Linked DNA regions of Homo sapiens. The protein of the gene in region 1 interacts with the protein of each later gene in a pairwise test. Each region holds a gene or a part of one and is shown in the gene's direction. Other genes may lie near its edges. The genes, in order: PHAX, MKNK1, PDPK1 and UBXN2A.

Region 1 (4,195 bases):
GCCTTTTCAGTTTGGCCAGAGCAGTCAGAAACCACCTGTTGCTGGAGGAAAGAAGATTAACAACATATGGGGTGCTGTGCTGCAGGAACAGAATCAAGATGCAGTGGCCACTGAACTTGGTATCTTGGGAATGGAGGGCACTATTGACAGAAGCAGACAATCCGAGACCTACAATTATTTGCTTGCCAAGAAACTTAGGAAGGAATCTCAAGAGCATACAAAAGATCTAGACAAGGAACTAGATGAATATATGCATGGTGGCAAAAAAATGGGATCAAAGGAAGAGGAAAATGGGCAAGGTCATCTCAAAAGGAAACGACCTGTCAAAGACAGGCTAGGGAACAGACCAGAAATGAACTATAAAGGTCGATACGAGATCACAGCGGAAGATTCTCAAGAGAAAGTGGCTGATGAAATTTCATTCAGGTGAGCATTTGAATTACAAATAAGTACTTGACCAGATGGCTTCTATTTACAGGAAATAAAATGAATGCCAAATACTTTAATGATATGTTCCTTTTTTTTTTTTTTTTTTTGGAGACAGGGTCTTGCTCTGTCACCCAGGCTGGAGTGCAGTTACTCACTGCAACCTCCGCCTCCTCGCTCAAGGGATTCTCTTACCTCAGCCTCCTGAATAGCTGGGACCACAGGTATGCACCCCCACGCCCAGCTATTCTTTGTATTTTTAATAGAGACAGGGTCTTGCCATGTTGTCCAAGCTACTCTCGAACTCCAGAGCTCAAGGGATCCACCCGCCTTTGCCTCTCAAAGTGCTGAGATTACAGGCGTGAGCCATGGGCTGGCCTAATCTATTTATTTATTTATTTATTTGAGAAAGGATCTCACTCTTGCCCAGGCTGGAGTGCAGTGCTGCAATCACACCTCACTGGAACCTAGAACTCTTGGGCTGAAAGGATCCTTCCACCTCAGCTTCCTGAGTAACTGGGACTACAGGCTCAGGCCATTATGCCTGGCCAATTAAAAAAAAAAAATTATGGCCAGACAGAGTGGCTCATGCTTGTAATCCCAGCACTTTGGGAGGCTGAGGTGAGTGGATCATGAGGTCAGGAGTTCAAGACCAGCCTGGCCGACACAGTGAAACCCCATCTCTACTAAAAATACAAAAATTAGCTGGGCGTGGTAGTGGGCGCCTGTAATCCCAGCTACTCGGGAGGCTGAGGCAGGAGAATCACTTGAACCCGGGAGGCGGAGGTTGCAGTGAGCCGAGATTGTGCCACTGCACTCCAGCCTGGGTGACAGAACTAGACTCCATCTCAGAAAAAAAAAAAAATTAGGAGTTTCACTGTGTTGCCCAGGCTGGTGTCAAACTCCTGGGAACAAGCAGTCCTCCCACATTGGCCTCCCAAAGTGCTGGGATTATATGCATCAACCACTGCGCTGTCCACAGATTTTTTTTTTTTTTTAAGAGATGGTCTTGCTCTGGTCACTCAGCTGGAGTGCAGTAGCACAATCAGAGCTCATTGAAGCTGAACTCCTGGGCTTAAGCAATCCTCCTGCCTCAACTTCCCAGATTGCTGGGATTATAGGTGTGAGCCACTGTACCTGAGTCTTTGAAAATTTTTCTTTAAGGAACTGGGATAATTTGGTTATATGAATACATTCGTAATGTATTTTTCTGTTGGTTTTTTGTTTATGAGACAGTCTTGCTCTGTCACCCAGGCTGGAGTGCAGTGGTGGTATCCTGGCTCACTGCAACGTCCCCTCATGAGAATTGCTTGAACGTGAGAGAGCCACCTGAGTAGCTGGGACTATAGGCATTCGCCACCACACCCAAATAATTTTTTTTTTTTTGTATTTTTAGTAGAGATAGGGTTTCATTATGTTGGCCGGACTGATCTCGATCTCCTGGCCTCAAGTGATTTGCCTGCCTTGGCCTCCCAAATGCTGGGATTATAGGCGTGAGCTGCGCACCCACTGTGTTTTCTTAAATTTGGACAAGCCTGATAGAATAATTTTGTAGACTTTTATGAACTGTTAAACAACTTGTTGCATTTAGTGCCATAGAGCTTTTTAAATAAAGCATATATTTTTAAATCATGGGTTGTTTTTGTTTGTTTAGTGTTTTCAAGAATTTGTGACTTTTTTCTTAACTTTGAGGTATATTTTACAGATAATATTCACCCATTTCTAGTGTTAATTTTTTTAGGAAACATATCAAGTTGTATAACCATCACCTCTGAAACATTTCTGTCACCCAGTAAGATCCCTTATGTCCACATGCCAGTTTATAGTTAATCCCTGTTCTCATTCCCAGATAACTGCTAATCTACTTTCTGTCTATAAATTTGCCTTTTTTGGATATTTCATATAAATGGTGTCATGTAGTATGTAATCTCGTGCCTTGCTTCTGTCAGCTAATGTTATGTTTTTGTTTGTTTTTGTTTTTGTTTTTTTGTGTGTGTGGTTTGTTTTTTTGATTGTTTGTTTGTTTGTTTGAGACAGAGTGTCACTCTGTTGCCCAGGCTGGAGTGCAGTGTCACGATCTCAGCTCACTGCAACCTCCGCCTCCTGGGTTCAAGCAATTCTCATGCCTCAGCCTCGTGAGTAGCTGGAATTACAGCCATGTGCTACAACGCCCAGCTAATTTTTATATTTTTTAGTAGAGACAGGGTTTCGCCATGTTGGCCAGGCTGGTCTCGAACTCCAGACCACCTCAGCCTCCCAAAGTGGTGGGATTAGAGGCGTAAGCCACTGTGCCCAGCCAATGTTGTGTTTTTGAGATTGATCCATGGTGTAGCAGGAATCAATACATTTTTATAGTGTGTGTATATATGCATATATTCATATTGAATATTCTACTTTTTGGCTATCATGAATAATGCTGTTATGAACCTTCACATCCAGATCTTTAAACACATATTTTCATATCTTTGTTTTCTTTTGTTTTGTTTTAGACAGAGTCTCACTCTGTTGCCCAGGATGGAGTGCAGTGGCATGATCTCAGCTCACTGCAACCTCCGCCTCCTGGGTTCAATCAAATCTCCTGCCTCAGCCTCCCTAGTAGCCGGGATTAGAGGCGTGCGCCACCACGCCCAGATAATTTTTTTTTTGTATTTTTAGTAGAGACAGGGTTTCACCTTGTTGACCAGGCTGGTCTCAAACTTCTAACCTCAGATGATCCACCCCCTTCGACCTCCCAAAGTGTTGGGATTACAGGCATGAGCCACCTCACCTGGCCATATTTTCATTTCTTTCAGGTAAATACCCAGAAGTAGAATTGCTTGGTGTATGGTAAATTTACAATTCATGTATTTTTACCAAGTTCAGATTTTGAATTAACATTTTCATTAGCTCTAAATTACTAATGAACAGTGTCATAAATTTGAAAACAGATACGGTTCAAGAGTAATGCAGGTGGTAGGAAAACAAGTATTTACTTTCCAGGCAAGCCTATCTGAACACCAGTACTTGATTTTTAAAATACTGGGGAAGTTTGGAATTTGAGTGCTGGAAAGAAACTTAGAGATGTTGTAAACCAAAACCTTCATTTCACAGATTAATATTAGACCTGGAGTTAAACCCTGATCCTTGTGTTCCTAGTCTATTTCTCTTTCCACAAAAATGCACTGCCTCCTGTTGAGAAGAAACAAAGGGTGCCAGGTCTGAATTCTTTTTTTTTTTTTTTTTTTTTTTTTTTGAGACGGAGTTTCACTCTCGTTGCCCAGGCTGGAGTGCAGTGGTGCCATCTTGGCTCACTGCAACCTCTGCCTCAGCCTCAGGGTTCAAGCAATTCTCCTGCCTCAGCCTCCCAAGTAGCTGGGATTATAGGCATGTGCCACCACACCCAGCTAATTTTGTATTTTTTGTAAAGACGGGGTTTCTCCACGTTAGTCAGACTGGTCTCGAACTCCCAACCTCAGGTGATCCACCCACCTCGGCCTCCCAAAATGCTGGGATTATAGGTGTGAGCCACCACACCCAGCTGAATTCTTGATCTGTTGAGAGTGTGAGCTTTGACACTGGAAGAATTACTTAGGCTACCTATGTTTCTAACCTCTCAGTGACAAAATGAAAACGATAGTACCTATCTTGTACATTCTTGAGAGAATCAGCTGGCATAGTGCATGTAAGGTTCTTAGGATTGTGCTTATTATAATCATAATAAGCCATCAGTAAATATTAGCTGTTTCTATTTTTTGTTCTGAGGCAGGGAGTCTATGAGGGAAAGGTCCTA
Region 2 (4,916 bases), on another chromosome or scaffold:
GTGGGAGGATCATTGAGCTCAGGAGTTCGAGACCAGCCTGGGCAACATGGCAAAACCCTGCCTCTAAAAAAATTCAAAAATTAGCCAGTCATGGTAGTGCATGCCTGTAATCCCAGCTACTCAGGAGGCTGAAGCAGGAGGATCACTTGAGCCCAAGCAGAGGTTGCAGTGAGCAAAGCTGGTGCCACTGCACTCCAGCCTGGGGAACACAGTGAGACCTTGTCTCAGAAAAAAAAAAAGAAAAAAAATTCCAAAACAATATTTGGAGCAGGGACCTAGGTAGTAAGCCATCCTCTCCAGCCTGGGGCAGAGCATCCACCTATTGAGTAAAGGATGCCGCATCACCCTCGGCTCCCATAAACACTGCAGCCTCTGAGGTTTCCTGTTGCCTCTCCTCCCTACCCCACAGCAAGCTGTGGAATATGTGGTGAAATAAGCCACAGTCATGACTAGAGCTCCACCTGCTTTGGGGGAGCCCTCCTTCCTCTGAGCACCCCCAGAGCCCTCAAAGATGTTAACTGAATTTGATTGCCATGTGAGGGACATAGCAACTTTGAGAACCTGGAACATAGGTCCTGAATCTCTTGGGCTATTGCCACAGGCAACAGGGAAGGGAACAGGCCAGCAGGGCCTCTGAAGACTTGAAGCTTGGATCGGCCTCCACGGAAGGTAATGAGTGGGAGAAGTCAGGATACATCGGGGCCCTCAGGTTGGACCGCAGGATTCCAGAAGGGAATGAACACAGAAGCTTGATCTTCCGCCTCTCCGGCCTTCACCCAGATTGGGAAATCTAGCAAAGTCCTGAATGTTCACTAATATTCCCAATCTCCTTCCATCATACAGATGAAAAGACAGCCCCGACAAGACAGGGAACAAATGTTTGTCAGGTGGATGATGGGAAGCAAGTCCCTGGGGCTCTTTAACTAGCTTGGCTTACCAAATCCTCACGATAATCCTGAGACAGGCAGGGAAGGGATGTTCACCTCCATCACTCGGAGTCAGCGCCTGAATTAAATCCCAGTCCACACTCTCATCCTTTCTCATCGCAGCTGCAGACTTGGGAAGGGGATGTGGGGAGACTGGTTGAGGCATTAACCTATTTACAGTTGTTTTTCCCCAAGAAATGAACTTTTAAAAGTTTTAAAAATTTTGAAATACTGGGGATAATGTTGTACTCAAGGAGAAACTCTTATGGTGAAATTCTAGGCACTCAGACTTTTAAAGAAATTGTACAGAATTGGCCCCCGTTTTAGAAAAGACTAGCAGCATTTCCCCACATATAAAAGGCATTTTAAAATTCCTTCCTGGCCTGCAGAAGCTCTCAGTACATGTTAATTACACCTGTCGCGCCCGGCCTCCTACCTTCCCGGGCTTCTCCACCCTCCATTCGGAAAAGAAAGCGCCGGAGGAGCTAAGCCCCACCCGCTTGCCAGCAATCTCCCCTCTCCCCGCCTCTTCCCTGTCACGCCTGCGCAGTTCGCTCAGCTCGAGCCCCCTGCCCTCAGGCGGCCCTGGGTAGCCATCAGGGCGCAGGCGCAGCTCCGCCCCCTCACCCTCCTCTCTGATCGGGCCCACCCCCTGGATCTAGCACCGCCTCTTCCGCGTTCTCGGAGGAGCGATCTGCAGGTAGGGGTGCGCGCGACCGCTCCCCGGCGGGAGCCAGCGAAGGTAAAAGCGAGACCTGCGAGGTATTCCTCCGAGCTAAATGGGGCCGGGGTCTGTGAGTGAGCTCGTGTGCCCGGAAGGGGGCAGTCAGGGCCTTCACGGCTGCCCGAGGTCACGACGCGATTCAGCTGCGGAGGGACAGCCTAAGGGGACGCTTTTCAGGACTGTCCCGAGCTGTCTGCGACCTCTGTGCCTGGGGTCGGGGCGTGGCCGGTGTCCGAGATGGCGCTTACTCTGTGGCCCGTTTGAGACTCAGTCTCTCCCAGGGATCAGGACCGAGGCTATGGCTGGGCGCAGGGCTCAGGCAGTCCAGTATCATGAATAGTTTTTCACGTGAGGAATTTGTGAAATCTGTGTACTGCGTTATTTTTAAGTTAATTGTTTTCATTTATTTTCAGTATTTAAAGGCTCCTGCCTGTGTGGATGGCTGTCCACAGGGAAAGGTAATAAGAGTGTCAGGTGCACCCTGTCTTCTAGAGAGCTCCAAGCTCCCTGACAGTGGCAGATCAGAGGCAGGCAGGCTCACAGGAATGAAGTGTTGTTAGAAGTGCTCAACTTCAGGGTCAGGGAGTCCTGGGTTTAGATCTCATCTCTTCCACCTCTTAGCTGTGTGTCCTGGGGCAAGTCTGCTTCCCCTCCCAGAGCTTCACTTTCTTCCCTAGGAAATGGCCATAATAGGGTCATTGTGAAGGGTGAATAGGATTATATGGAAGTCACCTAGTATGGCGCCTGTCATGTAATGGGTGCTGAATACATGGTAGCTGTGATTTCTAGGAGCTTGGTCATTTTGGATTGGGGTACTTTAGAAAGGCTCTGAGAGAAGAGTTGTTGTGACCTGGGCCTTGAAGCCTCAGTGGGATTTACAGATGGAACTGACCCTGCAGAATGGGAAGGGCACCACTGCCCATGCGCCAGGCACATGCTGGACAGTAGGTGTAATGTCTCACTGGATCACCACCCATCAGCCAGGTGCTTTCAGCCCACTCTCCTTAGCTTCAGCCCTTCATTAGAGGGCTGGGCTGGAAGTGATGTGAAGAGGAAATCCAGGGTTGGGTTTTATATGGAACTGAGCCAGCTAGAGGCTTTGGTGCCCCCTCTGCCCATCTGCTCCCACCTCAACACTTCTCTCTCTGTAATCCAGAGAGTTGGTTAGGAGTCCTGTTACTCTGGTATTTTGCAGATGTTGACAGTTGTGGGGGATGGCAACTCAGATTGCATGAAGCGAAGCCATGGGAGAGGGAAGCTCTGTGAACAGGAGCTGTCAGAGCCCAGCACGTGCTTAGAAAGTGCATGTGGTCTCCTGTAATGTGGTCCCAGAGTAATTGAATTACTTAGTTCCTTTTGCATCCTCTTCATGGGTGCCCTTGTGCTCTTCCTGAGACACTACTCGGAAACCTTGGTGGGCATCATTGCCTACTATATAGAGCAGTGGTGTCCAATCTTTTGGCTTCCCTGGGCCACATTGGAAGAAGAAGAACCATCTTGGGCCACACATAAAATACACTAACATTAACAATAGCTGATGAGCTTTAAAAAAATTGCAAAAAAATCTCAGTGTTTTAAGAACGTTTATGAATTTGTGTTGGACCACATTCAGAGCCATCCAGGGCCGCGGGTTGGACAAGCTGGATGTAGAGTTTGGACTCCAGCCTCAGACAAGTTCCTGCACAATTTGTTCCCACACCTCTCCCCTCCCTGTTTCCCTTGGTTTTCCCAAACCTGCAACCTGTGCTTCAGTCAAAATAAACTAGTTGTCTCTGTTTCTCCTTTTTTTTTGAGATGGAGTCTCACTTTGTCACCCAGGCTGGAGTGCAGTGGCACAATCTCGGCTCACTGCAACCTCCACTTCCCAGGTTCAAGTGATTCTCCTGCCTCAGCCTCCTGAGTAGCTGGAATTACAGGCATGAGCCACCACACCCGGCTAATTTTTGTATTTTTAGTAGAGACGGGGTTTCGCCATGTTGGCCAGGCTGGATTCAAACTTCTGACCTCAGGTGATCCGCCTGCCTGGGCCTCCCAAAGTGCTGGTACTACAGATGTGAGCCAACGTGCCCGGCCAAATCTCTGTTTCTCAAACACTCCCTGCATGTTCCTGCTCGAGCCTTTGCTTATATTCTCTCTTCCTGGATTTCCCTCCTCCTCCTCATCTTTCAAGGCTTACATCTCTTACATCTCATGTGGCCTCCATGGTGAAGCTTTTCTGAGCCTTCTGCTGGATTAGTTGTTCCCCTTTCCATCTTCTGTAGCAAAGGCTGACCCTCTAATATAGCTCTCATCATAGTCTGCCTAGGGATATGTACACTCCATATGTACTCTGAGTACGTGGGTGGCAAGGGACCATGTCTCTTTCCTTCCTCCTCTGTCCAGCATAGGGCCAGCACATAGTAGGCCTCTTCAGTGTTTGTGGTTAAGTGAGTCAGTGACATTTTTTATTTACTAGGTTTGGCCCTTGTTTTATGAGCTGTCAGGTTCAGAATGGGACTTTGTGTTTTTCCTCCTCTTTGTGCCTAAGGAGGGCCCCAGTTTAGACTGATGCCCTAATTACAGGCATCAAAAACAAGAAAGTACAAGAATTCTGCACAAGCAGGCATTCTTCATTGCAGCCATTGTTTTCAGGCTCTTGTCTTGCCTTGACCGTGAGTTTTGTTGGAAGGTAGGTAATGCTGTGTTCAGAGACCTGCACTGGGTGTATTAATAGTACAGTTCAAACAGGGGAAAGCTCACAGGTGGTTTTCTAATCAGTTTACTCTGCCCTTGGCCTTGGGAAACAGTGGTTCCTCCCATCTGGGGACCAGCAGCTATAAATGCACATTTTCCCTTGCCAACAGCCTCAGCATGTGGAAGAGAAAGTTATTTCTTGATCAGAGAAAAATTTACATGGTTGAAGGTAGAAGGAGCTTGGAAACCAACCATCTGGTTCCGCCACTTTCATTTTATAGATGGGGAAAGGACTTGATTGAGATTACACAAGGAGGCCGGTGTGTGGCTCACGCCTGTAATCCCAGCACTTTGGGAGGCCGAGGCAGGTGGATCACCTGAGGTCAGAAGTTCGAGACCAGCCTGACCAACATGGTGAAACCCCATCTCTACTAAAAATACAAAAATTAGCTGTGCATGGTGGTGGGTGCCTGTAATCCCAACTATTTGGGAGGCTGAGGCAGGAGAATCGCTTGAACCCAGAAGGCAGAGGTTGCAGTGAGCTGAAATTGTGCCATTGCACTCCAGCCTGGGCGACAGAGTGAGACTCTGTC
Region 3 (4,195 bases), on another chromosome or scaffold:
TGCTGTGTGTCAAACGTACGTGATTTCCTTGGGGAGGCTCACCTTCCTCGGGGCTTGCCGGAGACTCCAAGCAAGGCTGGTGTCCTTCCAGGCAGGAGGTCTCAGGCCCCTTGAGGGGTGTCACCTGTTGTGAAGGCCACTTGAGTCTTTGGGGGCTGGGTACCCCCCAAGCAGATGACGTGATGAGTGTGGCTAAATATTTAACCTGGTTTTGTAGATGAGAACGTTAGACACATCTCTTGATGGTCTGCGGAGGTTTTTTCTGATGTAGTTAATTTCATTTTAACCTGGCATCAGCAAGTTACATTCTGTGTCCTTGTGTCTCACTGGCAGGGCCCTGGGAAGCTGTTCTTTTTCTTAGATTGAAAGTTAGTATCTCTCCAGGGTTTTTGGGGACATTTATTGACCTCTTCTTATTTCTCTGTTTTGTTTTTTTGAATACATAAAACAGTACGCTCTGGACATTTGCTGGAGACACAGCCTCCAGAGTCTTGTGTTCCGAGTTTCACAAACAGGAGTATTGTCGCAGTACTGTCAAGTCACACTTGTTACCTGTCTTCGGGGTGTTTTTTCCTCTGAAAGCAAAGAAATGAAGGTCGAAAGCAGCTGACATGGGACGTTTTGCTGACGTGGGACCCATGAAGCCGTGTGTGGTTGTGGATTTAGTGAAGGTTGTAACAGGTTCAGGGGAGGCCTGAGCAACTCGGGGTGTACTGTCTCCATCTGGGCCTCTAAAGAGACAGAGTCCCGTGCCGCCACTGTGGTCGCCAAGGTGGCCGCCGTGTGCGTGCTAGGGCCATTCCAGGGAGCCCTGGGGGCACCTCACTCTGGAGGGCCTGGGTGAGTTCCTGAATAATTCTTTCTTGCCTGACCTTTGTGAAGAAACCGTAGGTGAGGTTTATTTTCCTTTTTTCTCTTTTTTACACATAGGAAATATTTCACAATGCAAAGAAAAACATGAAATATAGCTTACCCATATTCCCAACATATTGTTTTAATTAATGTTAACTTTTGCTGCCCTTACACTTTAGATTTTTTAAATTGCAGGTTTTATGAAATAATTTTTTTATAAAAGGATTATGCCCTCATGAAAAATGCCTTCAACCATGAGACTAGTCCCCAAAGTTTTGGGGACTCAGATCCTTTCAGAAAGAAGAAACTCTTTGGAAAACCTTGGGCATTCTGCATGGCTGCTTACAACCACCCAGTGAAAGAACAGGCCTCCTCTTTTCTCAGCTTTACCTGTTTTTTGAGACAGAGTCTTGCTCTGTCACCCAGGCTTGAGTGCAGTGGCATGATCATAGCTCACTGCAGCCTCGACTTCCTGGGCTCAAGTGATCCTCTTACCTCAGCCTCCCAAGTAGCTGCAGTTACAGGAATGCACCACCGTGCCCAGCTAATTGTAAAATTTTTTGTAGAGACAGGGTCTCACTTTGTTGCCCAGACTGGTCTTGAACTCCTAGGCTCGAGTGATTCTCTCCTCAGCCTTGCAAAGTGTTGGGATTACAGGCGTGAGCCACTGTGCTTGGCCTCAGTTTTACTTCCTTGTATGTCTCTTTTTAATTTAACTTTATTTTATTATGTATGTATTTATCCTTTTAGAAACAGAGTCTTGCTCTGTCACCTAGGCTGGAGTGCAGCGGTGTGATCATAGCTCACTGCAGCCTTCACCACCTGGGCTTAAGCGATCCTCCTGCCTTAGCCTCCTGAGTAGCTGGGACCACAGGCATGTGCCACCATACATGGCCCTTAACATTTATCTTGACTGAAAAAGGAAGACTCATCTGTGAAATTGCCTGTTTCCCTGGGTTCTGGAGATGGGTGGAGAGCAGGCACTGTCCCTCCAGGGGCTGTGGTCCGTGTCTTTCTGAACCTGCACCAGGGAGGTGCCCGGGAGAGCACGGTGAGCCGGAGGCTCCTCCATGGGGCTGTTTGGAATCCACAGTACTGGGTCTCAGATTACATGTGTTACCCTCAGTTCTTTCTCAGCTTTCCTGAAATGGAGATCACATAAAAGTTGATTTCCAGGGGAGGGGGAAAGGACAGTGATAGGAGGCTGGGCAAGAGCCAGCTGCAGCACCGGAGAGCCGGGAGGCCCCCTGAGGACGGTCACAACCTCCAGGGAGGGACACGTCACGCGCCATTCTCTGGAAGAGGATCCTTCCTTCTTGTAGGAAACCTGCTTGTGAAGTGTTGAGTTTAGACAACGGAAAGATCACATCAGTATCCCCTTAGAAAGGGTTCCACTAAATATCGGTGCTCGTTCACAATTCTTTCTTCCTCTTTTCTACTTATGAAGCTAGCACGTGCTCTTGTGGAGAAACGTGACCTCACAGAAACACATGAGCTAGAGAGGGGAGCCCTGCCCGGCCCACTTCCCCTTTCTCCCTGGCAGCTGAGAGCCATCCATGCGTGGCGTATTCCTCTGGGAAGACCTTGAGTATGTAGAGTCCCCAGAATCCAACTTCATTCTTCTTGAGTGCCACAAGGCGTCTCACATGGTGCTTTCCAGGATCTCTTCTGACGTGTCCCATCAGGAGTCCTGCCCCGATTGCGGCTCACAGCCCGGGGCCAGGTGGACCTGGCCCTGTGGCCTCCTGAAGGTCTTCCTGCCAGCCCCCAGGAATGTCACGGGACAGGTTTCCTCTGCTCCCTGCTCCTCAGGCCGTCCCCCTGTGGGTGTCTTAGGAGACACTTGTGTCCCACTTGGTGGTGGTGGGGCCTCCCTGGCACAGCTGCCTCATGCTCTCTGGCTAAACCGTGGGCCCACCAGGAATCTCCAGTCTGGTGCCTCAGGGTGTGCCCCAGGCTAGTCCGAGTGGAGGGTCTCTCCCCTGTTTGGGATGCCTGCCCTGCTGGAGTGCTCTGTCTCGGAGGTGGGGTTTGAGTGCAGGGCTCAGGGGTGCTGAGAGGACAGGGCAGGAGGCCTGCTGCATCCCGGGCAGGTGGCTCCCTCTTGTGGGCACGCAGGGCCATGCATTGCTGGTTTAGCTCCCTCTGTCCTTTACAGCCAGGCTCTCTTCATGGTGCCCACAAGCAACATCATACAAAATGTATGATAACAGTTATTTCCAAAAACGAAACTTCAGGGCAGCCTTTGCAATGAATGTATACTAGAAGGACATATTGTTGTCACAGAAGCCCCTGTGCCCTGCCACTTGTGGTGGCGCCACTGTCTTCCTTCTGTTGGTGAAGGGCGTGGCAGTCGAAGAGGTTCCTGAGTTTGTACTTGTGTTGCACCGTTAGGGCTGTTAGCAGCTGATCCAGAAGCTTCTGGAAACAACAGAGAGATGGATATGTTTTCTCTTAGCTGTTAGAACACATCAACACGAGCATTGGCTTTTAGCTCTACTTGTCAGTACAAGACCCAAAATATTTCACTGTAGACTCAAGCCTTCAGTGGGGACAGGAAGCGTGCGTGTGGGGCAGAGGGACTCGTCAGGCCCAGTGTCCTGGTTATTACATTGTGTGTTTCTTTTTCTCCTTTTCTTTCCCAACCAGGTTGTCCTGGCTCGAGAACTGGCAACCTCCAGAGAATATGCGAGTGAGTATGGGCTGCAGGGAGCTGTGCGTCCGGGAGCAGGGCAAGCGGCTCCGTGCAGGGCGGCTGGGGTGGCAGGGCCGGTGTTTCTGTGCTGATTTCAGGGTACAGGACACTGTTGGCTTTAGAGACCACCAGGCTGTTGTGTACAATGTTTGAAAGACTTTAATTTGTACCAGTTACCTTTGTGAGTCATGTCTTTAGTGTTTTTTGTTGTTTCTGATAGTAACTCACTTCTCTCTCACCTGAAGTTAAAATTCTGGAGAAGCGACATATCATAAAAGAGAACAAGGTCCCCTATGTAACCAGAGAGCGGGATGTCATGTCGCGCCTGGATCACCCCTTCTTTGTTAAGCTTTACTTCACATTTCAGGACGACGAGAAGCTGTGTATCCTTTGCGTGGTTGGTGCCGTCTGAAGCCACACCAGTCACCCCTCTCACTTGGAATCAGACCCTGTGTGTTCCCACAAGCAGCCCCCGCTCCCTGCCGAGTGGGGTCCCTCAGGCCGCTGACATTCAGGGAGGCAGCCGAGGCAGCGCCAGGGTGTGGCTGGGAGTCTGCACAGGACGTTACCTCCCGGAGAAGCCACCGATGTGGCTCCAGCACAGTCCTCTCTGCTGCGGCTTGCTTGGTCGGCGTCCCTTGCTCCCCT
Region 4 (4,195 bases), on another chromosome or scaffold:
ATTTCCGTTTTCAGAATAAATCAACTACTTTATTAGAATTTGTTAAAATTTGTCCTTTGGCCGGGCGTGGTGGCTCACACCTGTAATCCCAACACTTTGGGAGGCTGAGGTGGGCAGATCACTTGAGCCTAGGAGCTCAGGACCAGCCTGGGCAACATGGTGAAACCCCATCTTTACAAAAAATACAAAAATTAGCCGGGCATGGTGGCCTATAGTCCCCGCTACTCAGGAGTCTGAGGCAGGAGGATCGCTTCAGCCCAGGAGGTCAAGGCTGCAGGGAGCCATGATTGCACCACTGCACTCCAGCCTGGGAAACAGAATGAGACCCTGTCCCAAAAACAAGAAACTCAAATTATTTATTTAACAGAGATATCCAGTCTTTTGGCTTCCCTGGGCCACATTGGAAGAAGAATGGTCTTGGGGCACACATAAAATACTAAAATACACTAATACTGACGATAGCTGATAAGCTTTAAAAAAATTGCAAAAAAGTCTCATAAATCTCATAATGTTTTAAGAAAGTTTTCCAGGCACGGTGGCTCACACCTGTAATCCCAGCACTTTGGGAGGCTGAGGCGGGCAGAACACAAGGTCAGGAGATCGAGACCATCCTGGCTAACACGATGAAACTCCATCTCTACTAAAAATACCAAAAAAAAAAAAATTAACTGGGCGTGGTGGCAGGCGCCTGTAGTCCCAGCTACTTAGGAGGCTGAGGCAGGAGAATGGCGTGAACCCGGGAGGCGGAGCTTGCAGTGGGCCGAGATCGTGCCACTGCAGTCCAGCCTGGGCGACAGAGCAAGACTCCGTCTCAAAAAAAAAAAAAAGTTTACAAATTTTTGTTGGGCCACATTTAAAGCCGTCCTAGGCCACAGATTGGACAAGCCTGGTGTAGTATATAGTCATCAAGTATTTCATGACTTTAGTACTATTTTAGGTACTGCTATAAAACTCATGCTGGTTGGGGGGCAGTGGTTCACGCCTATAATCCCAGCACTTTGGGAGTCTGAGGGAGGAAGATTGCTTGAGCCCAGGAGTTCAAGACCAGCCTGGACAAGACCCTGTCTCTACAGAAAATTTAAAAAATATATGCTTTCACAATAAAAAATAATAAAAACTGATGCTGTTCATGAGCTTATGGTCTTAAAAATTATATTCCTGTGGGTTTTTGGTATTCATATTATTTAACTACATTGTTTTGAATACATTTAGTTATTTCATTGTATAGAATATTATATATTTCTGTATATTTCTACATATTCATTTTTTGTATGTACAGAATGTTTTTCAGAGAAATAAAATACATTGGGAGCTTTATCATTTTCTTTCTTTGTTTTCCAAGGGAATTACCTTCAGAATTACAGGGAATTTTTGATAAAGAAGAGGTGGACGTTAAAGTTGAAGACAAGAAAAATGAAATATGTTTGTCTACGAAGCCTGTGTTCCAGCCCTTTTCAGGACAGGGTCACAGACTAGGAAGGTAAATATGCCTATTGTCTTGTTTTGCATAGATCAAGGCTTAACTAATATTCTGTCTATCAGTATTTTACCCATGTAGACCACATGAATGGAGCTTATCATTTCTCCCATTGGAAATCAGATTTTTTTTAATGTTAATTTTTATGAGGACACATAAGTCATAGTTACCTAAGTATATATTAACAATGCCTGGCCAGGCATAGTGGCTCATGCCTGTAATCCCAGCACTTTGGGAGGCCAAGGTGGGCGGATCACCTGAGATCGGGAGTTCGAGACCAGCCTGACCAACATGGAGAAACCCCGTCTCTACTAAAAATACAAAAAATTAGCCAGGCGTGGTGGCATGTGTCTGTAATCCCAGCTCCTCGGGAGGCTGAGGCAGGAGAATCGCTTGAACCTGGGAGGCAGAGATTGCGGTGAGCCGAGATCGCGCCATTGCTCTCCAGTCTGGGCAACAAGAGTGAAACTCTGTCTCAAAAAAAAAGAAATGCCAGCAATACAGTAAAAAATCATGCAGGCTTTTTTGTTTTTCTTTTTTTCAAATCAAAAGGGCTTGGCTTATTAAGGACAGAATTCAATAGTTAAGTTCTTTTGTGTCCCTTGCACTCACCACTGTAGAGTACATGTACTAGCTTTTGAATATTATTGTTCTCTTTTTTTTGAGACAGAGCCTCACTTTGTTGCCCAGGCTGGAGTGCAGTGGCATGATCTTGGCTCACTGCAACTTCTGCCTCCCTGGTTCAAGCAATCCTCCTGCCTCAGCCCCTCTAGTAGCTGGGATTACAGGCATACACCACCACGCCCAGCCAATTTTTGTATTTTTAGTAGAGACAGGGTTTCGCCATGTTGGCCAGGCTGGTCTTGAACTCCTGACCGCAGGTGATCCACCCACCTCGGCCTCCCAAAGTGCTGGGATTACAGGTGTGAGCCACCGCACCCAGCCTATTGTTCTCTTTTATGGTTACCACTGTCTGCAACATTTTGTTCTGTGATCTATGTATGAATTTTGAGGTAATAAAAATGAAAATCAGTGTCAGTATCAAAGCCTTAAATTATTTTCAAGTTTTACAGTTTCCATCCTATCTAACAGAATATGCAGAGAGATTATATAGATATGAGAGCTCTTTGATTTTTATAAATTCTCATATTTTAAATTATCAAGATTGGTAAGGTGCATACATATTCATCCACACATACAAATATATCTGGATGCATCCTTCAGAATGATCAGGAAGTACTTTATTTAGTTTCTTTTTCATTATAACCTAAGGACTAAGCTCAATAAAGAACTTATAATTTCTTCTAGAAATTTAACCTGGGCAGTAGGTAAAGGTAAAGTCCATAGATCTATGAACCTTCTTTAAAATTATCCATTCTGTAAAGCACTACTCAAATAATACCAGTAATAATATATGTAGCTTACAAATTACTCAGATATGTATAACTTCATCAGATTCTTAGAACCATCATATATTGTGGACATAAATAATATATCTTTCTGTTATTACTGAAGAAACACATATAACTTAAAAAATCTTCCTTAAAGTTATACTTGCTATAATATTTTTATAGTAATTATTTAATAATAAAGTTTTATTGAATGGAAAAAACGTCTAACTTTGTTGTCTGGATTTCCTTAGTGCCACACCAAAAATTGTTTCTAAAGCAAAGAATATTGAAGTTGAAAATAAAAATAATTTGTCTGCTGTTCCACTGAACAACTTGGAACCCATTACTAATATACAGATCTGGTTGGCCAATGGAAAAAGGATTGTCCAGAAATTTAACATTACTCATAGGTGAGTCTTCAATTTCAGTATTTGATATTTTTTCACCAAGTTAAAATTTCATTTTTTCTTTTTGGTTCAGTCAACAGTTTATTTTTTAGAGATAGAATCTTTCTTTGTTGCCCAGGCCAGAGTGCAGTGGCACAGTCATAGCTCACTGCAGTCTTGAAGTCCTGGATTCAAGCAATCCTCCCACCTCAGCCTCCTGAGTTGTAGAACTACAGCCACATGCCACCATGCCCAGCTAACTTTTTTTTTTTAATTTTTATTTATTGCCAGCTAATTTTAAAAATTGTTTTGTAGAAAGGGAGTCTCACTGTGTTGCCCACACTGGTCTCAAACTCCTGGACTGAATTCATCGTCCTGCCTTAGCCTGCCAAAGTGCTGGGATTACAGGCATGAGCCATCGCATCCTGCCAAGCATTTTATTTATTTATTTATTTTTTTGAGTCGGAGTCTCGCTCTGTTGCCCAGGCTGGAGTGTAGTGGCACGATCTCAGCTCACTGCAACCTCTGCCTCCCAGCTTCAAGTGATTGTCCTGCCTCAGCGTCCAATGTAGCTGGGATTACAGGTTTGCACCACCAAGCCCGGCTAATTTTTGTATTTTTAGTAGAGACGGGGTTTCACCAGGAGTTTGGCCAGGGTGGTCTCAAACTTCTGACCTCAAGTGATCTGCCCGCTTTGGCCTCCCAAAGTGCTAGGATTACAGGAGTGAGCCACCTCGACCAGCCTGGCCAAACATTTTAATAAATAGTTCTCTAAACATAATTATGTCTAGACAGTTTTTTTTTTTTTTTGAGGCAAGGTCTCACTCTGTCACCCAGGCTGGAGTAGAGTGGCGCGAGCCACCGTGCCCAGCTGATAATGGGTATTTTTAAACATTGAATGAGGTAGGCCAGGTGCAATGGCCCATGCCTGTAATCCCAGC

What was found.
Region 2: the proteins of PHAX (region 1) and MKNK1 interact in a two-hybrid assay, tested with the Homo sapiens proteins (one large-scale study listed by BioGRID and IntAct).
Region 3: the proteins of PHAX (region 1) and PDPK1 interact in a two-hybrid assay, tested with the Homo sapiens proteins (one large-scale study listed by BioGRID and IntAct).
Region 4: the proteins of PHAX (region 1) and UBXN2A interact in a two-hybrid assay, tested with the Homo sapiens proteins (one large-scale study listed by BioGRID and IntAct).

The regions. Positions count from the first base shown.
Region 1 is NC_000005.10:126,603,758-126,607,952, forward strand, and holds part of PHAX (phosphorylated adapter RNA export protein), read left to right. Parts: coding exon 1-426; intron 427-4,195. UniProt on the Homo sapiens protein: A phosphoprotein adapter involved in the XPO1-mediated U snRNA export from the nucleus.
Region 2 is NC_000001.11:46,600,937-46,605,852, reverse strand, and holds the start of MKNK1 (MAP kinase-interacting serine/threonine-protein kinase 1), read left to right. Parts: upstream 1-1,584; 5' UTR 1,585-1,668; exon of another isoform or gene 1,669-1,688; intron 1,689-2,065; exon of another isoform or gene 2,066-2,108; intron 2,109-3,701; exon of another isoform or gene 3,702-4,318; intron 4,319-4,916. UniProt on the Homo sapiens protein: May play a role in the response to environmental stress and cytokines. Appears to regulate translation by phosphorylating EIF4E, thus increasing the affinity of this protein for the 7-methylguanosine-containing mRNA cap.
Region 3 is NC_000016.10:2,557,979-2,562,173, forward strand, and holds part of PDPK1 (3-phosphoinositide-dependent protein kinase 1), read left to right. Parts: intron 1-1; exon of another isoform or gene 2-3,501; coding exon 3,502-3,544; intron 3,545-3,767; exon of another isoform or gene 3,768-3,792; coding exon 3,793-3,930; intron 3,931-4,195. UniProt on the Homo sapiens protein: Serine/threonine kinase which acts as a master kinase, phosphorylating and activating a subgroup of the AGC family of protein kinases.
Region 4 is NC_000002.12:23,981,554-23,985,748, forward strand, and holds part of UBXN2A (UBX domain-containing protein 2A), read left to right. Parts: intron 1-1,342; coding exon 1,343-1,480; intron 1,481-3,119; coding exon 3,120-3,278; intron 3,279-4,195. UniProt on the Homo sapiens protein: Acts to repress the ubiquitination and subsequent endoplasmic reticulum-associated degradation of CHRNA3 by the STUB1-VCP-UBXN2A complex in cortical neurons.